2 linked regions of the Homo sapiens genome follow. Each later gene encodes a partner of the first gene's protein in a complex. Each region holds a gene or a part of one and is shown in the gene's direction. Other genes may lie near its edges. The genes, in order: MALT1 and BCL10.

What was found.
Region 2: the proteins of MALT1 (region 1) and BCL10 are in contact, whole or in part, in a cryo-EM structure (PDB 6GK2), measured with the Homo sapiens proteins. Residues at the interface, in NP_006776.1 of Homo sapiens: Asp46 (codon at 7,646), Gln47 (codon at 7,649), Ala48 (codon at 7,652), Pro49 (codon at 7,655), Trp54 (codon at 7,670), Arg55 (codon at 7,673), Leu74, Glu75, Ser78, Leu79, Val81, Leu82, Glu83, Pro84, Glu85, Gly86, Pro88; in NP_003912.1 of Homo sapiens: Leu13, Lys17, Val83 (codon at 6,435), Arg87 (codon at 6,447), Asn93 (codon at 6,465), Gln97 (codon at 6,477), Thr100 (codon at 6,486), Leu104 (codon at 6,498), Arg107 (codon at 6,507), Asn108 (codon at 6,510), Leu111 (codon at 6,519).

Annotation. Positions count from the first base shown.
Region 1 is NC_000018.10:58,664,134-58,676,577, forward strand, and holds the start of MALT1 (mucosa-associated lymphoid tissue lymphoma translocation protein 1), read left to right. Parts: upstream 1-7,331; 5' UTR 7,332-7,510; coding exon 7,511-7,719; exon of another isoform or gene 7,720-7,740; intron 7,741-8,479; exon of another isoform or gene 8,480-8,726; intron 8,727-12,444. UniProt on the Homo sapiens protein: Protease that enhances BCL10-induced activation: acts via formation of CBM complexes that channel adaptive and innate immune signaling downstream of CARD domain-containing proteins (CARD9, CARD11 and CARD14) to activate NF-kappa-B and MAP kinase p38 pathways which stimulate expression of genes encoding pro-inflammatory cytokines and chemokines.
Region 2 is NC_000001.11:85,265,675-85,277,151, reverse strand, and holds BCL10 (B-cell lymphoma/leukemia 10), read left to right. Parts: upstream 1-519; 5' UTR 520-799; coding exon 800-856; exon of another isoform or gene 857-1,136; coding exon of another isoform or gene 1,137-1,352; exon of another isoform or gene 1,353-1,986; coding exon of another isoform or gene 1,987-1,989; intron 1,990-6,245; coding exon 6,246-6,534; intron 6,535-9,169; coding exon 9,170-9,525; 3' UTR 9,526-11,376; downstream 11,377-11,477. UniProt on the Homo sapiens protein: Plays a key role in both adaptive and innate immune signaling by bridging CARD domain-containing proteins to immune activation.

The DNA of each region.
Region 1 (12,444 bases):
GGAGAAGCTGTCTATATCCATATGAACAAGTACATATAAATGTCTTCCATCTCATAAAGCATTGCCAAACTATCCTTTTCTATCAGGCCTCAACATTTCTACCTGAAAATTAACTGCAAGGATGTTTTACTACATTATAATATACCCTTCCTACCCAAGTGGTGTCTGCTCTAAGATGTCAACCACCTTTTGCAATACACTATTGCCCTTTCTGCAAATTGGACAGTTTCTTCAGAATTTACAACTTCTGTTTCAATGTAGGAGCCAGGTGGGATGCTTTACGCAGAGACAGGGATGGGTGGAGACAGACAGAAATACATGCAGTCTCCCTATAAAGGTTCTTCAATCCCATACCTCAATGTATACAAATCTGTAAAAATGTATACATGGATAAACATACATCAAATAGAGAAATCCCAAAGTTCACTTTGGGGAAAAAAAAAAGAAAAAGTTGCCAACCAGTCTAAGCAATACTGAAAACCACTGTTGTCTCAAATAATTGATGAATCTCTTACCTTTTTCTTGTTGCTTTACCATTTTTAAAAAATGTGTCTGAAGTTTTACAACCATTCCTGGATGTGAAGTGGAACGATAGTGGTTTGGGGCATCAGCTGGGGTAGGTCAGGGGGATAGGAAAAGCAGAGGAGAGTCAGTGCCACCTGGAGAGTTGATTGAGCTGAGAGGAGAAGTGGCAGCACCTGTGAGTTTTGAGATCTACTAGGTATGTTCTAAGATAGCACTTTCTAAAGGAAAATCCATAGAACACTAGTTCTGGGACACACTTAGCAAAAACAGGCCCAGTAAGTAAAGAAGTTTGGAGACACTCTATATACCGGTGAAGCCACAACATATTGCAGTTTCTTAAAGGCTCTGAGACACACAGAAAAGAAACCTGAAAAACTTTAACACAGCGTTTACCAAATTAGTTTTGCCATGGAGCTCTTTTTGTAAGTAATGCACTAATAATGTGTTTCAAGGAACTGGTGTTCCCCAGGACATAACTTGGGAAATTTTGCTCTAGAGCAACTGGATACTCTTGCAACCATTGTTCTTATATCCCTGGACCTTCAAACCCTATTATTATTATTTTGAGACAGAGTTTTGCTCTTGTCACCCAGGCTGGAGTGTGATGGCGCAATCTCATCTTGGGTCGCTGCAACCTCTGCCTCCCGGGTTCAAGCGATTCTCCTGCCTCAACCTCCCAAGTAGCTGGGATTACAAGCATGCATCACCAGGCCTGGCTAATTTTTTGTATTTTTAGTAGAGATGGGGTTTCACAATGTTGGCCAGGCTGGTCTCAAACTCCTGGCCTCAAGTGATCCGCCCGCCTCGGCCTCCCAAATTGCTGGGATTACACGCATGAGCCACCGCACCCGGCCCTTCAAACCTTATTCATTCCTCCTAGTGTTCCAAGCCCTCATTCAACCACAGCTTCTCACAACTCTCATTTCCTTTTATTAGCCACTTTTCTTTCCAAGACAATGTCTATCCCATCCCTTGAATGCCACATATTAAAATCCACCTCCTGCACCTTTGCCCCTTCTCATTTCCCCCACTTGGAACATATCCATCCCTTCCTTCAAGATCCAGCCCTAAACTCTGACTATAGGAAGCCTTTTCTGAAGAAGTCCACTTACATGGAATGTTCAGTTATTTAAATTCTGCTTTATTTAATCCTAGTGTATCACAGAGAAACTGCTGGTGATACAGTTACATGAATCTTCTCTTGGGAATAATTTGTCATCTCTACCTTTCATACTTACTCATTTAACAACCAGGCTAAATCTAATACCATTGCCCTCTCTACTGCACGTTTACTATATTCCATACACCAGAAATGTTTGTTTCATTTCCTTCTGACTAAACCAAGTAGAATGTAGAATAACACATTTGAAAGTTGGCTGAGGCGGGTGGATCACCTGAGGTCAGGAGTTCGAGACCAGCCTGACCAACAGGGTGAAACCCTGTCTCTACTAAAAATACAAAAATTAGCCGGGTGTGGTGGCGCATGCCTGTAATCCCAGCTACTCAGGAGGCTGAGGCAGGAGAATTGCTTGAACCCAGGAGGCGGAGGTTGCAGTGAGCTGAGATCGTGCCATTGCACTCCAGCCTGGGCAACAAGAGCAAAACTCTGTCTCAAAAAAAAAAAAAAGTTTAAACATTCTTTAAAGTATAGTGATTCATGCAACCAGGCACAGCCACAGACTAGTAAAAAATAATCCCAAATATTTGTTCAGTTTGCCCCTCCTCTCCATGCCCAATGTTGTGGCTCTTGGTGGAGGCCTTTTTTTCCCATCTACATTACCAGAATACTTCTTGGACTTCCACTCTTTCCCCTCCCCACATTGCTGCCCGAGAGATGTTTCAAAAATCCAAAAGTGAAATCACTATCCTGCTTAAAATATTTCAATTACTCTCCATCACTTAAAGCAGTGTTTCTCAAACTGTAAACATTTAGCTTTAGGGGTTTTGACATATCCACATACCACCTGTTCTCTTGGGTATTTAATATACTTCCTTAAACAAAATCAAATTTTAACAAGTAAATTTGATATAGTCCTAATCAATACTATTAGTTGAAATGGCAATTTTGATTGGCAGCTATTTTTCTTTTCTGTATTAATGTATAACTATTAAGATAAAAATGTTCATCCATGTTATGACTTAAAAGCATCTTGTATAACACCAGTGGGGCATAGATGGCTCTGTGGTAGGTATGTATCTACAGAATAAAATCTCAGCTTTTGGCATGACATAATCTGGTCTTCACTGCCTTTTACATCGTGGTCTCTGTCCCTTTCCCATCAGTATCCCCAGCTCTCCTGGAGCAACTGCAGTTCTCCAACCTTGCTGTGATGTTTTCTGGCTCTGTGCTTTTATAGTATGGTATTCTTTTTTTTTTTTTTTTTTTTTTGGAGACGGAGTCTCGCTTTCTCACCCAGGCTGGAGTGCAGTGGCACGACCTCGGCTCACTGCAACCTCCACCTCCCGGGTTCAAGCAATTCTTACTCAGCCTCCCGAGTAGCTGGGATTACAGCTGCCTGCCACCATGCCCGGCTAATTTTTGTATTTTTAGTAGAGACAGGGTTTCACCATGTTGGTCAGGCTGGTCTTGAACTCCTGACCTCGTGATCCACCCGCCTTGGCCTCCCAAAGTGCTGAGATTACAGGTGTGAGCCACTGCGGCCAGCCTACAGTATGGTATTCTTTCTACCCTGTTTCCCAAGCCATCTCCTCTCATCTTTCCACATGGACTGAAGGGCTCTCCCCTGGATTTGTATACTTCTTGCTATCAACAGAGCACTTACTCCTCCTGTTCCTTGTCTTAAGCAGACATCGGGTTTGGTCAACATTGTATTCTGCAAACTCTAAGGGAAAACTGGTGAAGACCGAACTGTGGTGTGGGAATCCCGCCTAGCTCATCTGCCTGGGTTGTCTTTATCTTTGTCTCATGACTAGGCTACTTTACAACTCTGAGATCGCAGTGAACTTACAGAAAACTGATAGTGATGCAAGTGAATCTTGTTTATAATTAAATAAATTGTCAGGTGGAGGTTCAATTGCATTCCCTCCTCCACTGTGGAAGAAGCTAGTTTTGCATCTAGGAAGCAACTTCATTTCAGTGGGCTGACATATTTATCTGGTCTTTGGGTTCTCCTCTGAAGTAATTGTAACACCTTTCTGATTCCCTTGTTAGTTAATGAGTTAAAATCTCTGATATGTGTTCATTGCATATTTGTTGCATCATGATTTAAACTTTCTTGTAGAAACTATTCTTAAGACCGGACGCGGTGGCTCATGCCTGTAATCCCAGCACTTTGGGAGGGCCGACATGGGTGAATCACCTGAGGTCAGGAGTTCAAGAGCAGCCTGGGCAACATGGTGAAACCCGTCTCTACTAAAAATACAAAATATTAGCTGGGCGTGGTGGTGTGCACCTGTAATCCCAGCTACTCAGGAGGCTGAGACAGGAGAATCACTTGAACCTGGGAGGTGGAGGTTGCCGTGAGCCGAGATCGTGCCATTGCACTCCAGCCTGGGCAACAAGAGCATAACTCCGTCTCAAAATAAATAAATTAATCAAATAAAAACTATTCTTTAACAGTATGTATTTGATACAGAGCCTGGTGCCCCAAGAATATGTGTTCATGACGGAATGAATGATTGAGTGAATGAATCAATTTAGACAAGTAGGTGTAGACTTTCCATGGTCAGGATCAAATATTTAGGTCTGGATGATTCATCATGAAGGAAGAGTGTGGAATACTAGCATGATGCCTAGCTACTATTACAAAGTTGAAATCGAAATGAGAAAATTTCCCTAATCCTTTGGAAGATGGTGGCAAGAATGGGCTGCAGGGGATGTGCTGAGCCTGTGTCTGTGGGTCACCTGAGTGGCTCCTACAGAGGCTGAGTCAGAGAGGTCACAAAGTGGGCTGAGCATGGAATAAGGGATGGCAGACAATGAATGCCTTTTTTTTTTTTTTAGACAGAGTCTTGCCCTGTTGCCCACACTGGACTGCAGTGGCACAATCTCAGCTCACTGCAACCTCCGCCCCCTGGGTTCAAGTGATTCTCCTGCCTCAGCCTCCCAAGTAGCTGGGAATACAGGCGCGTGCCACCACGCCTGGCTAATTTTTTTTGGTGTATCTTTAGTAGAGATGGGGTTTCACCATGTTGGCCAGGCTGGTCTTGAACTCCTGACCTCGTGATCTGCCCGCCTCAGCCTCCCAAAGTGTTGGGATTACAGGTGTGAGCCACCACGCTCGGCCATGAATGCCATTTAAGCCACATAACTCCTGCTTCCTTTCCCTCCATTGTATACAGATCCAAGGACCAGCAGGTTTTCTCCTGCACTGAGTCTTTTAAACCCTGTCCAACTGTGAAATAATATATCATTCTGGCGTTTTTTTTTTTTTTAGTTGGAGTACCATCTATAGTTAAACTGTATAAAGGAAAAAAATCCTATGAGTCAGTTTCCAGACCTATGAGTGCTTTGAAGATTACATCAATGGAGTTCCATATATTGAAACCACAAGCTTCCTGCCAATTGTCTGGATTTACAAAGATCTATTTCACTTTGAACTAATGAGGAAGAACTCCCAAGGCTATTATCTATAGACATGCATGAACTTTTAAGGGACATTTAAAAGCCAGATCTTTACCCCCAATTTTTCTCCTATCTTTATATAAACATAACGGTTAATATAGAAAAGAAAGCTGAATTACTATTTACATTGTTCCCAAAATTGATGTAGCAGTTTTAAGAGTACTAATATACAATGCACATACTTCTCCCTGACGCTATATAACACTATTAGGTACTATTATTTTCCACTTTTTACAGGTGTGGAAACTGAAGCTCAGAGAGGTTAAGTAGATCACCTAAGTTCCACCACTAGACTAGTAAGTGGCAGCAACATCAAGTTTCCAATTCAGGACTAACTTTAAAGGTCACATTCTACTATACCATTATGCCCATAAGAGAACCACAGGAGTGAAATTATGTCATAGAAATATTAACATTTGATTGAGGAGAGAAAAAGACCAGTCAAAAAAGGTAATGTCAGTTTGGGTAGAGGATGGAGGGTGGCGGGTAGTGACTGGATAGGGTATAAAATTGCTAGGTGGAAAAAAAGGTTGGGAGTAGGGTAAAACGAGGGAGGCAGTCACTTGGGAAGCCAGGGTGGGGGCGTACAACTCGAGGTCAAAACAGTGCCCAGCTGAGCTATATTGGCTAAGAGTAAATAACACTGGCACCCATTTAACTCGTATGCACACGAGAGGTTGCATAAGCAACGCTTTGTACATGGCAGACTTTTCTAAGAAGTCTAAATTTAGAAGACCTCTGTTGAATTTAAATTAAAAGGCAGGATTCCAGTAAAGACTAGAAGATTTTATTTCCATAATTGGCACATGCAGGTAACAGATCCTCAGAAAATATTTGTACAGTAATTGAGGACAAAACAGGAAGGCACCTGAAGCGGTTGGGAAAGGCTTGCCAAGTCAAACTGAGTATGAAACGGCACTTGTATGTGTAAGGGTAATAGCATTTACTGAGTCATCTACGATGTGCCAGTTACCGAGTTAAGTGCTTCACATACATCAACTCCTTTAATTCTGGCAACAACTCTATATAAACTGTATTGTCAGTCCTGTGTTAATAGATGAGGCAGAGAAATTAAGAAACTTATTCAAGCTCCTAACACTTGAATCGAGCAGATCTTTCATGCTCTTAGCCATCTCACTGCAGTCTGAATTCTTAACTTATGCTAGAGTGAAGTTTAATGACTGCTTGTGCTAGAATGTGGTGGAGACTGTATGGCGCACCTACCTCGCCAACATGTATAAGAATATAGGTATCCAAATTACTGGTCAGAAAATCCTGCGGCCTTGGGTGATGAAAAGCTAATGGCAACAGAAATTGGGCCAGGAAGCCTCGTGTAGGGAACTACCTGACTGGTCACATTTCGTAAGTTACTTCCTTTTTGTCCCAAACGAAGCCATAGTTTTCAAAGGGATAATGGCCTTGGATGTTGCTAAGATTGGCAGAGAGAGCTCAGGTGTCGTCCATTCCGGATCATTCCAGGGAAAGGCATCCTCTACAGGGTTGCCTGCTTTGATGACGGAGATTGCGGGCGGCAGTCTGACGCGGTGTAAACCAGATGATTCCTGCTAAAAACAATCATTTCCAAGATCTGATTAGCCCTAAATATGCCACAGCTCAGTTTGCAAAGTAGTAATTGTTTAAAAGTCTAGGCAAAGATTTTGGCCAATTCCAACTCAAGTATCCGGATCTCCAGCACTACTTCCCTCTAGCAATGCCATACACATCTAACCCTAAAACGAGGAAGCGTCCGCTGAGGTTGCCCACTGCAGGATGCTGGTGTGTCGCCGGGCACATGAAAGTCCCTGAGTCAGGGGAGAGCGCTCGCCGGGGACTGCGGGCGGGAGCCGGCGACTGAGAACCGCTTGCCCCGCTCTCTGGCGTGAGTACGCAGGCCTCCTCCCACGGTCTCAGGAAGCCCAGACGCCGCAGGCTTCCCCGCCGTAGAGGAGCTGCCGGGGCGTAATTCCTCCACCGCTTCCTCCTCCAGCTGCACCCACCCGTCCTTTCCTGCTCGGGAGGGCTGGGTTTGAAGCGCGCGCCACGGCCAGCCCGGGACCGCGGGGGAGGGCGAGGGAGGCGCGCAGCCGCACGCACGCAGTAGGCAGCCCCGCCCCGCCCCTCGAGGCCCAAGGTCCCGCCCCTCGAGGCTCCGTGCCCCGCCCCCCGGGTGCCCCGCCCCTTTGCGCGGCTGGCGCGGCCAGCAGGCCAGGCTCCCCTCGGCAAACCTGTCTAATTGGGGCGGGGAGCGGAGCTTCCTCCTCTGAGGGCCGTGCCGCGCTGCCAGATTTGTTCTTCCGCCCCTGCCTCCGCGGCTCGGAGGCGAGCGGAAGGTGCCCCGGGGCCGAGGCCCGTGACGGGGCGGGCGGGAGCCCCGGCAGTCCGGGGTCGCCGGCGAGGGCCATGTCGCTGTTGGGGGACCCGCTACAGGCCCTGCCGCCCTCGGCCGCCCCCACGGGGCCGCTGCTCGCCCCTCCGGCCGGCGCGACCCTCAACCGCCTGCGGGAGCCGCTGCTGCGGAGGCTCAGCGAGCTCCTGGATCAGGCGCCCGAGGGCCGGGGCTGGAGGAGACTGGCGGAGCTGGCGGGGAGTCGCGGGCGCCTCCGCCTCAGGTGAGCTCAGGGCCGCGGCAGGCCGGGCGCGCGGGTCGAGCGGGGTGGGCTGCGGTGGGGAGGTGGGGGCGCTGTCGGTGGGGCTGAGCGCGGCGGGGGCCGCCGGCGTGAGTGAGCGGAGGTGGGGAGGACTTCGGTCATTGAGGCGGAGCGGAACTCAGCAGCTCCCCGGAACGCCTGGGGTTTGAGAGCGGGGCCCAGGGCTCTGGAGGGTGGAGGCAAAAGTGGCCCAGCGGCTGCCTCGCTCCCTGTTCCCACCCCCGCCCCTGGTGAAAGGGAGAAGTCGAGGTTGACCCCGGAGGATAGTGAGAGAAGGAAAGCTGTCAGGGGACCCCTAGGATGGGGCAGTCATCCAGAGGACTTAAAATGCAAAAGAAAGGGATGTGGACACTGCTCTGGGAGACCTAAGGAAGGCTGGGAAGAAGCGCAGGCGAGGTGATGAATGCAGAGGGTGGGGTGCAGGAATTCATGAACATTTTGCAAGGTATTGGGAAAGACTGACGCCGAACTCATCATCTCCCTCCATCAAACCAGGTTACCACGTTCTCTTCTTGACTTCACCATGAACATGAAACTCGAAGTAAAACTATTTTCCTTGTTAGGTTTGGAATGGCTGTATTAGGGTTCCTGAAGTTTTGGTCTCGAGACTCCTTTACCCTCTTAAGAATTATTGAGGACCCCAGAGAGCTCTTATGTGGGTTAGAGATAATACATACATGTAATACATACTGATATTTACCACCTTTGAAATTAAAGCTAAGACATTTAAAAAATATTAATTTATTTAAAAAGAATAACCCATTATATGGTAACAGAAATAATACTTTCGTGGAAAAACAAATTTTCCAAAACAAAAAAGTCTATTAGAGAAGTGGCATTGGTTTTCATTTTGAAGATCTCTTTAATGTCTTGGCTTAATCACAGAGCTGGATTCGTTTATGTGCTTCTGCATTCAGTCTGTCGCACTATTACAGGTCACAGAACGCTGGAAACTGCAGTGTCCACTCCTGAAAGAATGAATGAAAAAGCTAAATAAAGTCTTAATATTGTTATGAAAAATCTTTATGACCTTGTGGACCCCGCGAAAGGGTCTCAGGAACTGCACTAGGGGTTCCCAGACCCCACTTAGAACCATTACTTTATACCATTGTTGTAACTTTGGCCTGCCTTTGAACCCCTTAGCAGTTTTTTGAACTTCTCAAATGACAAAGATTTGTCTTACAGTATAATTATTTGTACACATCTTTATAAATGCCTTAAGAACAAAAACTGTCTCTTAATATTCTGTTATGTATAGAGGTTAGTAAATACTTGATGAGAGGAAAGTCATTCATTCAAAATGGTATTTATTAAGTGCTTATTATTTGCTAGAAATTTTAGAAGATAAAAAACTAACAAATATTCAATTCCTAATCATAAGGGTTTATCCAGGAATGGACTATTATTTGGGGACCTTTACAATAACATATTAAATGCTGTGTTGGGTATGAATGATAATGGATTTTTATCTTTTATTGAGGACATGGTATGTACCACAAAATATACTAAATGTTTACATGCTGCTGCTGCTGCTTCATTCTTCTTTATTCTTCTTATTTTTGCATTATCTTTTTTTTTTCCGAGATGGAGTCTTGCTCTTTCGCCCAGGCTGGAGTGCAGTGGTGTGATCGTGGCTCACTACAACCTCCGCCTCCCAGGTTCAAGCAATTCTCCTGCCTCAGCCTCCTGAGTAGCTGGGATTACAGGCGTGCGCCACTACAGCCCGCTAATTTTTTTGTATTTTTAGTAAAGACGGGGTTTTGCTGTGTTAGCCAGGCTGGTCTTGACCTAAGGTGATCCAGCCGCCTCAGTCTTCCAAAGTACTGGGATTACAGGCATGAGCTACCCTGCCTGGCCACATTATTTTCTTAAACCCTCCTGACAACTCTTGTTTCAGAGTTTGGGATTGAGGCAAAGGATAATAGTGACTTGGGATTATTGCTTGTGCAAAGGAGTAATGATGTGAGGAGGGAATAACTAGCAAGGCCTAGCAGAGAAGTGGCATAATTTTTTTCTGTTCTAGGAAAAACACGTTGGGCTTTTGGATATGCAAAAAAAACAAATACAAAATATTGTTATGCTAGGTACATAAAATTTTGAATTTCTGGACTTACCATAATGTAAAAAATTGTCTTTGGGGGCAGATCTCCAGAGTATTACGGTGCTAACGAGTACTCTGGTTAGGGAAGGTTCTGGGCTTCCTGAAGAAAGCCAGGTATGGAGGACTCCTACATGGCCATGAAGGAGAGAGAAGAAAGTCAGCAAGGCCCTGCCAGGGAAGAAGCGTGGCTGCTGGAATCCAAAAGCAGCGGATACTTGATGTTGGGTGTTGTGTTTTCCTCGCCTGCCTTCAGTCAGTTTTTGTTAAAGGCTACAAAATGGTCTTAGCTTTGTTTGGGGGAACTAAAGGAAATATTTGAGGCCACTTTTCTGTGGAGTCACACAGAGAGAAGGGGACAGTTGCCTAACAAGAGGTGGCAAGCACAAAGGGCATGCAGTTGTGGAATCTGAGAATTTGGGGTGGGAAGTCTGATGAGAGGCAGATGAGTTTCACCTGTCTTTCAAGATGGTAAAGATTAGTTTTGAGGAGGTTGGCTGGGGTGAGAAGGGTTGGAGAATTTGGGAACGTTAAGCTCATCCCTATGGAGATCAGAAGAATTAAACGGACTTTTTTTCAAAAAACAGCACTGGGAGCTTGGGGGCTGGACAGTGAAGCAAGGTCAGCTGGGGATGCTTACTCTATTTAAGACAAAAAAGTTATTGTAAAGTGATTTCATGCTGTTGGGAGAAGATCTGTGATACTAGAAGGTCCTAAAGGTATTTTTTCTCTGGTGCCAAAGACAGGAATTATAGTGTGAGTGTCTAGTCCGTGTGGGTGACAAGTCCCACGAGGCTGTGAAGTGCTTTCTTCAGTCACTGGATCTGCAGCCCTAGAATCTCGAAATGTTGCCCATTCTGTTTCTTTTTCTTCTCTTCACTTTTTTTTCTGACACTTTACATCTTTCCTCAAACTGGGTGAAAATTTAATAATACAAATAAGTAAACCACAAGAAAAGAGCCCGTTCAAACTGTCTACAAGAGATTAGAAATAATTGTAAATGTTTTCATTGCTGATGACTCAGAGTAAATCCTTGTTGATAGCTTAGTTCCCCACAACCATGTACATTTGGGAATGTGCTATAGTCAGACCCGGCCCTGATTCCATTCAAGACTGACCTGGACACCCTTTGCTGTTAGTGTAGATAGACACAGACTCTGAGGGTCTTGCCCAAGCTATGTAAATTCTTTGGTGGCATGGAACATCTGAGCCCTAAGGATGGCAGACCTTCCAGGAGGTTCTAAATGCTGCCTAAAATTCTGTTAAGTAGGGAGCTTAGAAATGGGGCTGTGGAACCTGGACCATGGAAAAACAGTCATTGCATACCTGCTGAGTAGAAGGTGCACTTTTAGCTGCAGAAATCCTGCTTTCATGCAGTTTATTATAGGAATGAGAACGTGTAAAAGGCTCTAACAGAAGGTTTCCTCCCAGCCTGGGAAACATACTGAGACCCTGTTTCTACAAAAAAACAAAAAATTAGCCAGGCATAGTGGCACAGGCCTGTAGTCCCAGCTACTCTGCAGGCTGAGGTGGGATTGCTTGAGCCCAGGAGTTCGAGGCTGCAGTGAGCCTCAACAATTATTATTGAAATTCATTCAGTAATCATTCATTTATGAATAATTAATATGGACAAGACAGAATTTTATTGATTTAGGTATTGTCAACCTCCAGCATGGTCGACAGAGAAGACCTTGTCTCTAAAACAAATAAACTAAAAAAGGTTTCCTTCTCGCCCTCTTGGTCTTATCCTTCAGTCCCATGACTTTACATTTATTTGGGTTGATTACTCCTAATTTCTATTTCCAGCCCATTTCTCTGCTTTGAACTCCTAGATTCACGTATGTAAACACTTGTTTGCCATCTTCTCTTGAATGACTAAGACACGTCTTAAATATAACATGTCCAAAATTTAACACGTCTTCCCTTATAAACCTCTTTCTTTCAGTTTCTGCACCCTCTGGTTGTTCAGTCCAAAAACTTCGAATTCATTCCTGACTCCACTTTTACACACAAATCGTTTTTGTCAGCCCATCCTTCCTGCTGTACCTTCACTATATATATGTAGAATCCAATGTCCACTGCTGGCACGCTGGGCCAAGCCACGTTGTCTCTCAACTAGATTATTCCAGTAGCCACTTAACTTCTCCCTGTTTTGCTTTGCTCCCACCCCAGTCTGTTACCAATATAGCAGTAAGAATTATTCTTTTAAAACATCACATCAGGTCTTATTCCTCCTCTGCTCAAAACTCTCCTATTGTGGCCAGGCGTGGTAGCCTCACACCTGTAATCCCAGCACTTTGGGAGGCCAGGGTGGGAGGATTACTTATGCCTAGGACTTCAAAACCAGCCTGAGCAACATAGATAGACCCCATTAAAAAAAAATGCCAACTCTCCTATTGTTTTTCCATCTCAGAGTAAAAACACCATTAGCTACCAGTTCACTCTTCAACCTGATATCTTCTTGTCTCCATCCCTCTCTACTCTGGTCACATGTGCTTTCTTGCCTTCCTTTGGACACAGTAGTCTTTGTACTTGCTGCCTACTCAGGCTGAGATGGTCTCCACAGGTAACCACATGACTTGTTCACC
Region 2 (11,477 bases), on another chromosome or scaffold:
ACCAAAAAGTATGCAAACGTTAAATGAGGTGTTAAAGTGGTGGGATTGTAGGTGGTTTCTTTTTTTCTTTCAAAAATTTGTTTAGTATTGTAGTTAGGCTGTTTGTGTGTATGCATGTGTATGTGTGTATGAGTGCGTTTGTGTGTGACCAAAACAGTAACTGGCAAACGTAACAACAGGAAATTGTAGGGCAGGGTCTGGGAAAAGGGGAGGAACCCAAGGTACTGACAAGCCCAGACCGGACTCCCCCGAAGTGAGCAGGCAGCAAAGGCTGAGAGTGCCAGCTGCCTGGGCACTGACGGACCCCACCCACGGAAACGATGCCTTATGAGGAAGCTAACCCGGGCCACTTACCGACGACCTGCGCAGGCGTGGCTTGAGGAAACGCCCGCTGTGGGCGGAGCCACCCGAAAGGCTCCGGTCGGGGGCGGGAACAGGATCGGCCCGCGGGCTGGCGTCGATAGGCTGCCGCAGAGACAGGGCGGGCTCTGCTAAGCGACGCGCCTCGCCGTGGGGCGGTGCCTGCGCCTGAGCCTCTACGAGAGGGAAGGAACGCTGCTCCGAGCTCCGCGTCGCGTCGCGTAGATTCGCGTCGCCGTCGACCTCAGAGGCGGGGCCGGAAGCGCTACGGTTTGACCCCCGAGTCCCTCTGTTCCCGAAGGGGCGGCCGTCTTTCTCCCGACCCGCTCCGCCTCCTCTCCTTCTTCCCCATTACCCGGAGGCCGAAGCCCCCAGCCAGGGCGGGGCGGCGCAGCCCGAGCTCCCGGACCCGGAAGAAGCGCCATCTCCCGCCTCCACCATGGAGCCCACCGCACCGTCCCTCACCGAGGAGGACCTCACTGAAGTGAAGAAGGACGTGAGTAACGCAGCTGTGCCCAGGGCGGGCGGGGGCGGGCTGCAGCCCAGCGGGAGACGAAAGCGGAAGCCTGGAGTCCGAGGACAAGGAGGATCCTCCAGGTCGGAGGAGCGGAAAGTCCTAGCACAGGAGGACTGTGGCGAGCCCTGCATCCGAGGGACCTTGGTGGCAGTGATCCTCCAGTGATCTGTCAATCCAGGTTTTACATCGCTAAACGCAGAGCTTGGGCTTTGTTGCCAAGTGGTGTTTTGATTCTTGCCCACTCCTCACCCATCTCCTCATGCTTTCCCCCCAACTGGGTTCTTGGAGATGCTTCGTTAGGGACTGGCGGCTCAGATTCATCCTTAAGTCAGGCTGCCTAGGCTGCTCACTCAGCCTAGAGCGAAGGCTGTACCAGGTGAAGGATCCCAAGCAGTGGACCAAAAATGTGAAGCTCTTTTGCATAAGGGGGCTTGAGGAAGCTCAACAGCTGAAAGCACAACCTGGAATTCCCCTAGTAAGCAGACGCCCACATATTTAAATTGGGGTTGGGGGAGTGAATACACGTAGCTGAGAATTAATGTACAGGTAAACGTCGAAAATATTCAGTAGCTAAATTATGCTCTTCTCGGATGGTGCAGAACCACATAAACCTTCATATTTATTCGTAACGAATGGCTTTGTTGAGATATGACATTCTTTTTCCTTTGCGTTTACTTGTTTTGTCAGATGAGACCTATATGAGTATCACTAAAATACTTTATCTGAAGTCAAATGAAAAACAGAAACTCAACATGAAACGTGTTCTTATTGAACACTGCAGTACTTTTACAAAGTCATTTTGATGAACTGGACAGGATGGCAACTTTTTAAATGTTCATCCACTTCAAATCCCTTCCTCTTCCCTGTAAGGTTTATTACACTGTACTCACAATTGGTGTGACTCACCAGCAGAAGGAAACTGGATATGACTGGGAGTTGTGCTTAGTTTCCTCATTCAACAGAGATTTATGGAGCACTTGCTATATGGAAAGCACTGGCCTTGGGTCTGGAAGGATACAAAAAAATGAAGATCAGTTTCCTGCTTTACATTCTAGTTGAGATAAGAATGGAACATAAATAACTACTGTAGAATAAATGTTGTCTTATTCATGGTGAGTGCCAGTAAAACCTTGAACTTCCAAGAGCTAGGCCTCCTATGTTCCAGATGCTGTGTCACACAGTTTACAATGTTCCCACTTAACCTTCGCAACAACCTCTAAAGAAGATAATTGCCATTCCCATTTTACAGCTAATAAAACAGGAACTGAGAAATTACAAGTGGAAGGAAATAAGATCTGTATACAAGTACAGATGTGAAGAGTGGCTTCCAGGTCTTTGTTCTTCTCTGTCAATTCATTGATGTTATCTGTCTTCAGGATTTCATTTTACGCCTATATCAGAAATAAATAACCTTGAGGAAACCATGGATGGGTTTCAAAAGGTCTATGAAAGAAACTATGTGCATGCTTTTTTCTTAGAGGTTTTTTTCATGATATTTTCAAAATGTCTTCTGATCTTAGAGAGTTTTAAAATTATCCACATATTTGGACTTTTCTCTCCACTCTAGGTCCTTATTTCCAAATGTCTACTGGAAATCTACTTTTATATCCTACAGATTGCTCACCTTGTCAAATATTGAACTTTTACTATCCTTTTCCCAAAGTTGCTTACTGTTGCTGCTGTATTGCCTTTCTTGATGAATGGTGTGCTACCACCCTTTGTCTTGGGACCTCCCACTTCTTTAGTGTCTCCCCCTCCTCCTATCTAGTTATTTGCCTCATTGTGTTAGTTGGATTTAGTACAGTTTAATAAATATGGATTACATGCTACTGTGAGGCTGATACTGTGGTTGGTTCTAACAGTTCAAAAATTAAAAATGAAAACACAATCCTAACTTGAAAAGAGCTCAATTTCTTGAGGGGGATTGTTTTAAATCACAAAATAAGTGCAGTGAGTTTTGCATTCAACTGAAACATTAACTACTTGGTGCCCTAGTAAGTGCAGGATATACAGTGTTGGCTAAAACATACCTCGTAGCTGCCTGCTTCAAACAGAGACGTTAGTTTAAAACAAATAAATAAATTTTGTTTTCATTATTGCAATTACTATGAAGGAATCAAACAGTGCCAAGACAATAATAGGGGAAATCGACTTGAGATAGGATGGTCAGGAGAGGTTATATTTAAACTGATTCCTGAAAGATTTGACAGAACTGAGGGAAGAGCATTCTGGGCAGAATAGAATTTGTCAAGGACCTAAAATAGGCAAGACCCTGGTGACTTGGGGAAATCGGAGGAAGGCAGAGGGTAATCTGAAGTGAAGTTAGGAAGGTGGGCTAGAGCCATTTTCATGAAGAGCCTTTTAGTAAAGTATCTGGGGTTTTTTTCCCCCCAAGTATAGTAGGGACTTGTTGAAGAATTGTATAGTTTAAAGATCCCTCTGCCTGTTTCATGGACTGAGGAGAACAAGAATAAGAACAGGGAAGCCAGTGAGCAGGCTCTTGGAATCTATAGAGATGAATGAGGATGGTGATTTGGATCAGGGTGAAGGCAGTGGAGATGAATGGAGCAGAATTCCAGATGCAGTTTTTGAAATAGAAATGATATGACCTGGTGATGGATTGAACATGGGAGTTGAGGAAGAGGATGTAATTAGATTAGTACATGGAAATGTCAGATCAGCAATTACATCTGCAAAGTCAAAGATCAGAAGAGAGATCTGAGCTAGAAATGTAAGTGTGGAATTGAATGATTTTACCTAGAAAGCTGTGAGCTAGAAGAGAAAAATGGTGTAAAACCCTTTAAAGAGAAGAATTTTAAAAAGTGAATTGTTAGCTTGAAAGTAGGGTAACAACAACAACAAGAAAATGATTGAAAAGTTGTATCCACAGGGATGGGAAGAAAACCAGGAGAGTGTGGTATTCATGTAACAATTTTCTTGTTTCAGGGAGGGAGTAGTCAACTGTGTTTATGCAGCTGAAAAATGAAATGAAGACTGAAAATATTTGGCAATAAGGGGGTCATTGGTGACTTCGAGAAGAATACTGGGGCAGGATGGAAATGTCTGGGAATGAATTGGGAAATGAGGTGAAAGAAGTGGAGTCCTGGTGTATAGAAAGATGAAGTGTATACACAAGGTGCTACAAGGACAGAGGACGGGGTGCCTAACTCATTCTGGGGAGTTAGGTAAACCTTTCCAAAGAAGATGACCACTGACCTAAATCTTAAAGGACGAATAGGGGCTTTAGGGTCTGATAAAAGCAGACAAAAAATACGTAAGGAAATGTAGAGAGACAGATAGTTTTAGGTAGAGCATAAATTTTCAGGACAAAGGTAGTGATAGATTAAGCTGGAGAGGTAGGTAGGAGCCATATTATCAATGAACCTTGTCTTCCATAATTAGTTATTATTGAGTACTTACTGTGTACAGAGACTATGCGTGGCCTTCATATATAGTATTCCCATTTAGTCCTCCTTGATGTCCTGTGAGTTAAGTTTTTAATCCTTATTTTATCAATAACATACCTGGAGCTTGGAGTGGTGAAGTAACTTGGCCCAGCTCTCACAAGGGTGAGTACTAGATTCAAGATTTGCACTGAGGTTGATCCAACTTTAGAGCCATGCCCTTAACTTTTCTACTCTTCTGCCACGTAAAGGAACTTTATCCTTTAAGACAGGGCAGAACATTGTTTTTAATTTTTTTTCTAAATTAACAAAATTTCAATATTAGAATTTGCTGGGCACAGTGGCCCACACCTATAATCCCAACAACTCAGGAGGATAAGGTGGGAGGATCACTTAAGGCCAGGAGTTCAAGACCAGCCTAGGTAATGTAGCAAAGATCCCTTCTCTACAAAAAAAAAAAAAAAAAATTAAAAATTAGCCGGGCATGGTGGCTCACACCTGTAGTCCTAGCTACTCAAGAGGCTAAGATGGGGATCACTTGAGTCTAGGGATTCCAGGCTGCAGTGAGCTATGATCAAGCCACTGCACTCCAGCCTAGGTGACAGAGTGAGATCCTTAAAAAAAATTTAGTAAAATTCATATAATACTCCAGATTTCCATTTTCTCCTGAAGGAGAAATGTTGAGGAGGGGGAAGGAAGTAGTAAGTGCAGCTAGGTTTCTATTGTTAATAGTCCATGCCAGATATGATAAGGACCAGGTCCTGGACATAGTTATTTGCTCACTCTGTGCTTTTCCTGTATTTGACCTATAATCTTTTTTTTCTGGGCCCGATCACATTGTTTTATAATTATTACCTGTGATATGTATTCCCAGCTAGACCATGAGCCCTTTGCATGTAGGATTCAAATCTTGTTCATCTTTGTATACTCAGTGCTCAGCACTCGGCATATTAGGAATTTAGATTTGTAAAATACTTGTCATGTGAATAAACAAGTAAATGTGGAACTTCGTAGACCAAGAACCACAGGAACCCTTCACCTAGCCTACTTTCCTGCCATTACCTTTGTCATTATTACTAACATATATTGATCACTTACTATGTACCAAGCGCTTTTCTAAGCACTTTGCATATCTTTATTCCTCATATAACAGTCAGCTGAGGAAACAAGCACAGAGGAGTTAATTACTTGCCCAAGATCATATATCTAGTAAATAGAGGAGCTAAAATACAGTCACCGGTACCAAATTATTAATGCCATTTATTGAGATCAACATGGATTTTCTACTAATTAAGCTCTTAGGCACTTCTCAAATCTAGGTTTGCTTTTTTGTGGTGTCCTTTTTCTTTATTTCTTTCATTTTTCGAACACTCCCTATTCCCCACACATCTTTCCATCTCCCTTCCACCAAGACTGATTCACTGAGTTAGAGTGTAGTCTTTCCAGCTGACCCCAAAGACAGATACATTATGGGCTCTTTCAGTTTAGGGTTTTGTTTTTTGTCTTTAACAGTTTAAGGAAATGGAGTAATTAATAACAAACATGAGAAAGTTACAGACTGTGAGACCTCTCACTAAGTTATTGGTCCTGACTAATTCTGCATTCCTTGCCAACTGATAGCTAAAATGTACAGTAGTGTTTGCCCTCATCTTTACTCCCGAAGATGGCCCTCAACAGACCTCCCTGTTTCCAAGGACCCAGGCCCTCTAGATTCAGCTGGTCCCTCTTCACAACAGCCTGGTCTTGGTTTTTAGGTTTGAAGGTGAGATCAAAGCAGTGAGGAATGTCTAGGACCTACTTGTGTCTACTTGGACTTTCATCTTAATTAGCATGCATTTTAGAAGGCCTGAGCCTCCTGACTTTAGAACATTGTCTCACACCAGCTAAGACTGCCAACTAATAGTCACGTATGTGATTTTCTTAGATGTTAAAAATAACATTGAACCATATTTTATGTCTTTTAGGCCTTAGAAAATTTACGTGTATACCTGTGTGAGAAAATCATAGCTGAGAGACATTTTGATCATCTACGTGCAAAAAAAATACTCAGTAGAGAAGACACTGAAGAAATTTCTTGTCGAACATCAAGTAGAAAAAGGGCTGGAAAATTGTTAGACTACTTACAGGAAAACCCAAAAGGTCTGGACACCCTTGTTGAATCTATTCGGCGAGAAAAAACACAGAACTTCCTGATACAGAAGATTACAGATGAAGTGCTGAAACTTAGAAATATAAAACTAGAACATCTGAAAGGTAAGATATCTTAATTATCTAAGAGCTAATTTAAATGTAATAATGCTTTTAAAAAATGCAGAGCAGGCCAGGTGCCTGCACTTTAGGAGGCCAAGGCAGGAGGATTGCTTGAGGTCAGGAGTTTTGAGACCAGCCTGGGCAACATAGCGAGACTTTGTCTCTACAAAAAATTAAAAAATTAGCCAGGCATGATGGTGCATACCTGTGTTTCCAGCTACTCAGGAGGCTGAGGTGGGAGGATCACTTAAGCCTGGGACATTGAGGCTATAGTGAGCCATGATTGTGCTACTGCACTCCAGTCTGGGCAACAGAGCAAGACCCTGTCTCAGAAAAGCAAAACAAAAACAGAAATGATCATTTTGCTTTCAAAAAGTTTAAACTTCAAAATTATATTCAATTTGCACTTATTTTACCTTATTTGACACTATTACATTGAAAAAGTGGAATATCTCTCAATATCCTGTATTTGTATTCATTTAATACCATTTATAGAAAACTATTATGAAATCCCTGCATACATAAGGATTTGTTTCTAAAGTCAGTAGAATGTAAAGTTAATCTATTCAAGAGTAAGCTCTGAAAATACTGTACATCACACATAAAGAACAGTATTTAGGCAAAGTATTGTAAAAGTCCAACTCTGCTAGTTTTTCTTATGATCACCAGTTGATCACAAGATGAAGTAATTGGCATATGTTTATAGGAATCACGTTGCATAAAATATTCATGACTTTAAACTAGTCTGGCAAGATGTGAAAGCATGGAAACAGATTAAGAGAATAGCAGATTCACCTGTCCCATTTCACTCTCACTCCAGAATATACACTCACTGATTGGAATATTGTGTGGAATTGCCTACACAATTTAAATCCCCAACCCCCTCCTGCCTCTGTTCCTCACTGTCTCTCTCCAGAGCACATAAATGTGCATGTGATGTTCTACAGCTCTTCTAGGCATTAGGGATACAGAAAAGAATAATTTAGGGCTCTGCCCTTAAGGAACTCATAGTCTATAAGTGTCCCCTTGCTGGGACACATTACAAGTTTTCCCTTTTGAGCCATATCTAAGAAAGTAGTTTGTATAGCATGGAATAGACATGCTGACTGTACTGTGAGGTTGAAAAACTAGTGGAAGAAGTGACATGTAAGTGCCCTTTATAGACTATGCAGGTTTTGCCTAAAAATTGTCAACTCAGGGTTTCTGTGCCTGTAGGTTGAATATTTGCTAAGCCTAACAGAAGGGTAAATTGTGTTTGTGTTTATTCTTTCAATCCTCTGGATAATGGTTAACTATACCCTTTGGATATCATAAAATTCTTTGATGGTATCTAAGTTGTTTTCTGCTGTAGCAATACCTGAGACTGGGTAACTTTTAAAGAAAAGAAATGTATTCATTTCTTACAGTTCTGGAGGCTGGTTAAGTCCAAGACCATGGCGCCAGCATCTGGCAAGGGTCATGCATGGTGGAAGGGCAGAAGATGGAAGAGCAAGGGAGGGCAAGAGTGTGAAAGAGAAGAAAAAGGAGTCGAACTCCCAAAATAACTAACCCATTCCCGTGATAATGGCATTAGTCCAGGGCAGAGCCCTCATGACCCTGTTGCCTCCCAAAGGCCTCAGCTCCTAACACTGCTGCAGTGGCAACCAAGTTTCCAACATGTGAACTTTTGGCGGATACATTCGTACCACAGCTAATGGGAACAACCACTGTCATTTGAGTAAACTGTGAGGTTGAGAAACAGGACATTATCTATTGAATTGTAGTTCTCACTTTCCCACAAAGTAGTCCTGGAATGTTGGACATGACTTAACTGTCCTGTGCCTTTTTTTTCTCTTTTTTTTTTTTTTTTTTTGAGACGGAGTCTTGCTCTTGTCACCCAGGCTGGAGTGCAATGGCATGATCTCAGCTCACTGCAACCTCTGCCTCCCAGGTTCAAGCGATTCTCCTACTTCAGCCTCCTGAGTAGCTGCGATTGCAGGCACCTGCCACCACGCCTGGCTAATTTCTGTATTTTTAGTAGAGATGGGGTTTCGCCATGTTGGCCAGGCTGATCTCAAACTCCTGACCTCATGATCTGCCCACTTCGGCCTCCCAAAGTGCTGGGATTACAGGCGTGAGCCACCATGCCCCGCCCTTTTTTCTCGTCTTTAATAATAAGAGACTATCCTAGGTGACCTCTAAAATTCCTTTTAGTTCTAATATCCTATTATTCAAGAATTAGCCATTGTCATTGATCAACAGATAGAATTTTAGCATCTGCCGTTTACATTTTTTTATTAGCTAATATTTTTTGTACCAGAATACTAAAGAATATTTATTGTGAAAGCTATTTCTTATTTTATAAAAAATTTTAGGTGGTTAAGTTTATATGTACGCTGTACCTTAAATGAGAATTACAGCATGTCGTTTAACTTCCACGAGACTATTTTGTTATATAGAAAATGCAAATAATAGTATACTTCATGGTTGTTGAGAAAAGCAAATTAGATTTGAAATAGATTATGACGGAAATTACAAGTTGCTATTTAAATTTTGATTGTGGGGTAACTAGCTTGTAATCTTTAACAAGTCACAAGATGGACAGTGACTCCATTTTTTTAGTTACTTTTTCATTTACATCTGAATAATTTTATTGTAGGACTAAAATGTAGCAGTTGTGAACCTTTTCCAGATGGAGCCACGAACAACCTCTCCAGATCAAATTCAGATGAGAGTAATTTCTCTGAAAAACTGAGGGCATCCACTGTCATGTACCATCCAGAAGGAGAATCCAGCACGACGCCCTTTTTTTCTACTAATTCTTCTCTGAATTTGCCTGTTCTAGAAGTAGGCAGAACTGAAAATACCATCTTCTCTTCAACTACACTTCCCAGACCTGGGGACCCAGGGGCTCCTCCTTTGCCACCAGATCTACAGTTAGAAGAAGAAGGAACTTGTGCAAACTCTAGTGAGATGTTTCTTCCCTTAAGATCACGTACTGTTTCACGACAATGACACTTTATTGCCTTTTAATTTTTAATGATGACAAAAAATGTTTTAAAGAATATGACTTTTTATAAAATGGCTGTAATCATTTGTTTACATTTGATGCATGTCTTTTAAAATGCAATGTAAGCATACTTTGTAAATAGGATTTTTAGAATTAAAAAAGCATACTTCTAGGATAGCTAACTGTAAATCATGTTGATCATGTACTTTTTAGTAATTTCTTTTTTTCCTTTTTAAGGTCTTTCAGTACTTTTTTAAATATTTTCTATTTTAAGACTGATTTTAATAGGGAATATATCTCTATTTGAGAATAGACCCTTACTAGGAAGAACGTTTTTTCCTCAGTGCATTTGTGCTAGAAATTTTCAAGAGTCTAATAGTCTTTGCCAGTCATTCAGCAGCAAATTTTCAGCATTAAGCTGTTCCTGTTCAGTAATAAAACCGGTCACTGATGGGAAAACTGCCAATATAGAAAAATAAAAATCTCTTTTCCACTCCATTGTCGTATAGGCATGTAAACAGCCTCTTTTTGATACTGGAGGAACACTTGATGGAGTGTGAGCCACCTAAGATCTCGGTTTGCCAAAATTCATTTCTAATTAACCTTACTAATTATACTACTTTGTTAGGATTTTCACATTCTTGGCTTAATCATTTTCATTCCTAAAGAAAAATATCTTGGCCTAAACCTCAGTTATTACATGTAATTTGATGAGGTATTTTTTCCTTTTTTCTTTTTTTTTTTTTTTTTTTTTTGAGACAGTCTTGCTCTATCGCCCAGGCTGGAGTGCAGTGGCGCATTCTAGGCTCACTGCAACTTCTGCCTCCCATGCTTACGTGATCCTCTCACCTCAGCCTCTCAAGTAATATAGCTGAGACTACAAGTGTGTGCCACCATGCCTCACTAATTTTTGTATTATTTTTGTAGAGACGGTGTTTTGCCATGTTGGCCAGGCTGGTCTTGAACTCCTGGACTCAAGCAACCTACCCAGCGTGGCCTCCCAAAGTGCTGGGATTACAGACACGAGCCACCTCACCTAGCCTGATGAGATTTTTAAAAAATATTTTCTCTGTACTTTTCATTCTCTTTTAATGAGGACCAATGTACAGTTGAAATAACTGGAACAAATTATTTTTGGTGTGTGTGACAATTCTGTTTTTAATGCTATTTGAACAAGTGGGCCATTAGCCAGATTTGTCTTTTTGTTGTAAAACAAAATTTGACTAATTTTACATGTTTATAAATCTTATGCTCTCACTGTTTGTTTTTATTTAAATTACAATTTTATCTGTTTCCTGACATTGTCTCCTATATATTTCTATTATTAATTGCAAAAACATAGAAATGGAAATTTTGCTATCAACAATAAAATTTTTTTAAAGTAGTGAGTGCTATTTTGGAGTTCCAAATTTTCAGTAGGAAGTATCTAAAACTTTTTTTAATACGTGCCATTATCTATAGAAAACATTACTTCAGGTTGTGAGATTGAGTTGCATTTCTGGATGGACTGATGAATTTATCCGACATGAAGAAGATTGGCATATTAGCTTTAAAAATTTTTAAAGATTGGATTTTTTTTAGTATAAGCACTTTCTAAGGATTATAGAGAAATGTTTCACCTCCAATGCATAGCAAAAATAGTGGTGTTAGAAAGAAAATAGGTTACATTTAAGGAAGGTGCTTTAAAAAGCAGAAGCAGACTTTAAAATTAAATTTGTGGACACCTTTTTAAAAATTGAATCAAAGATTATAATTTAGATATACAATAACACCTATATATAGATAAGTTTTAACACTGAGTTTTCTTTCAGACTGTTTTCTAACTACATAGACAATAAAATTAAGCTTTGCATAAAGCTAGGTTTGTGGGTTTTTGACTTCTACAAAGTCATTTTTTTTCCTTTTAGCCCTGAAAACTAGCCATTGCCAAAAGTGTGTAATTTAGGATGACTTGACA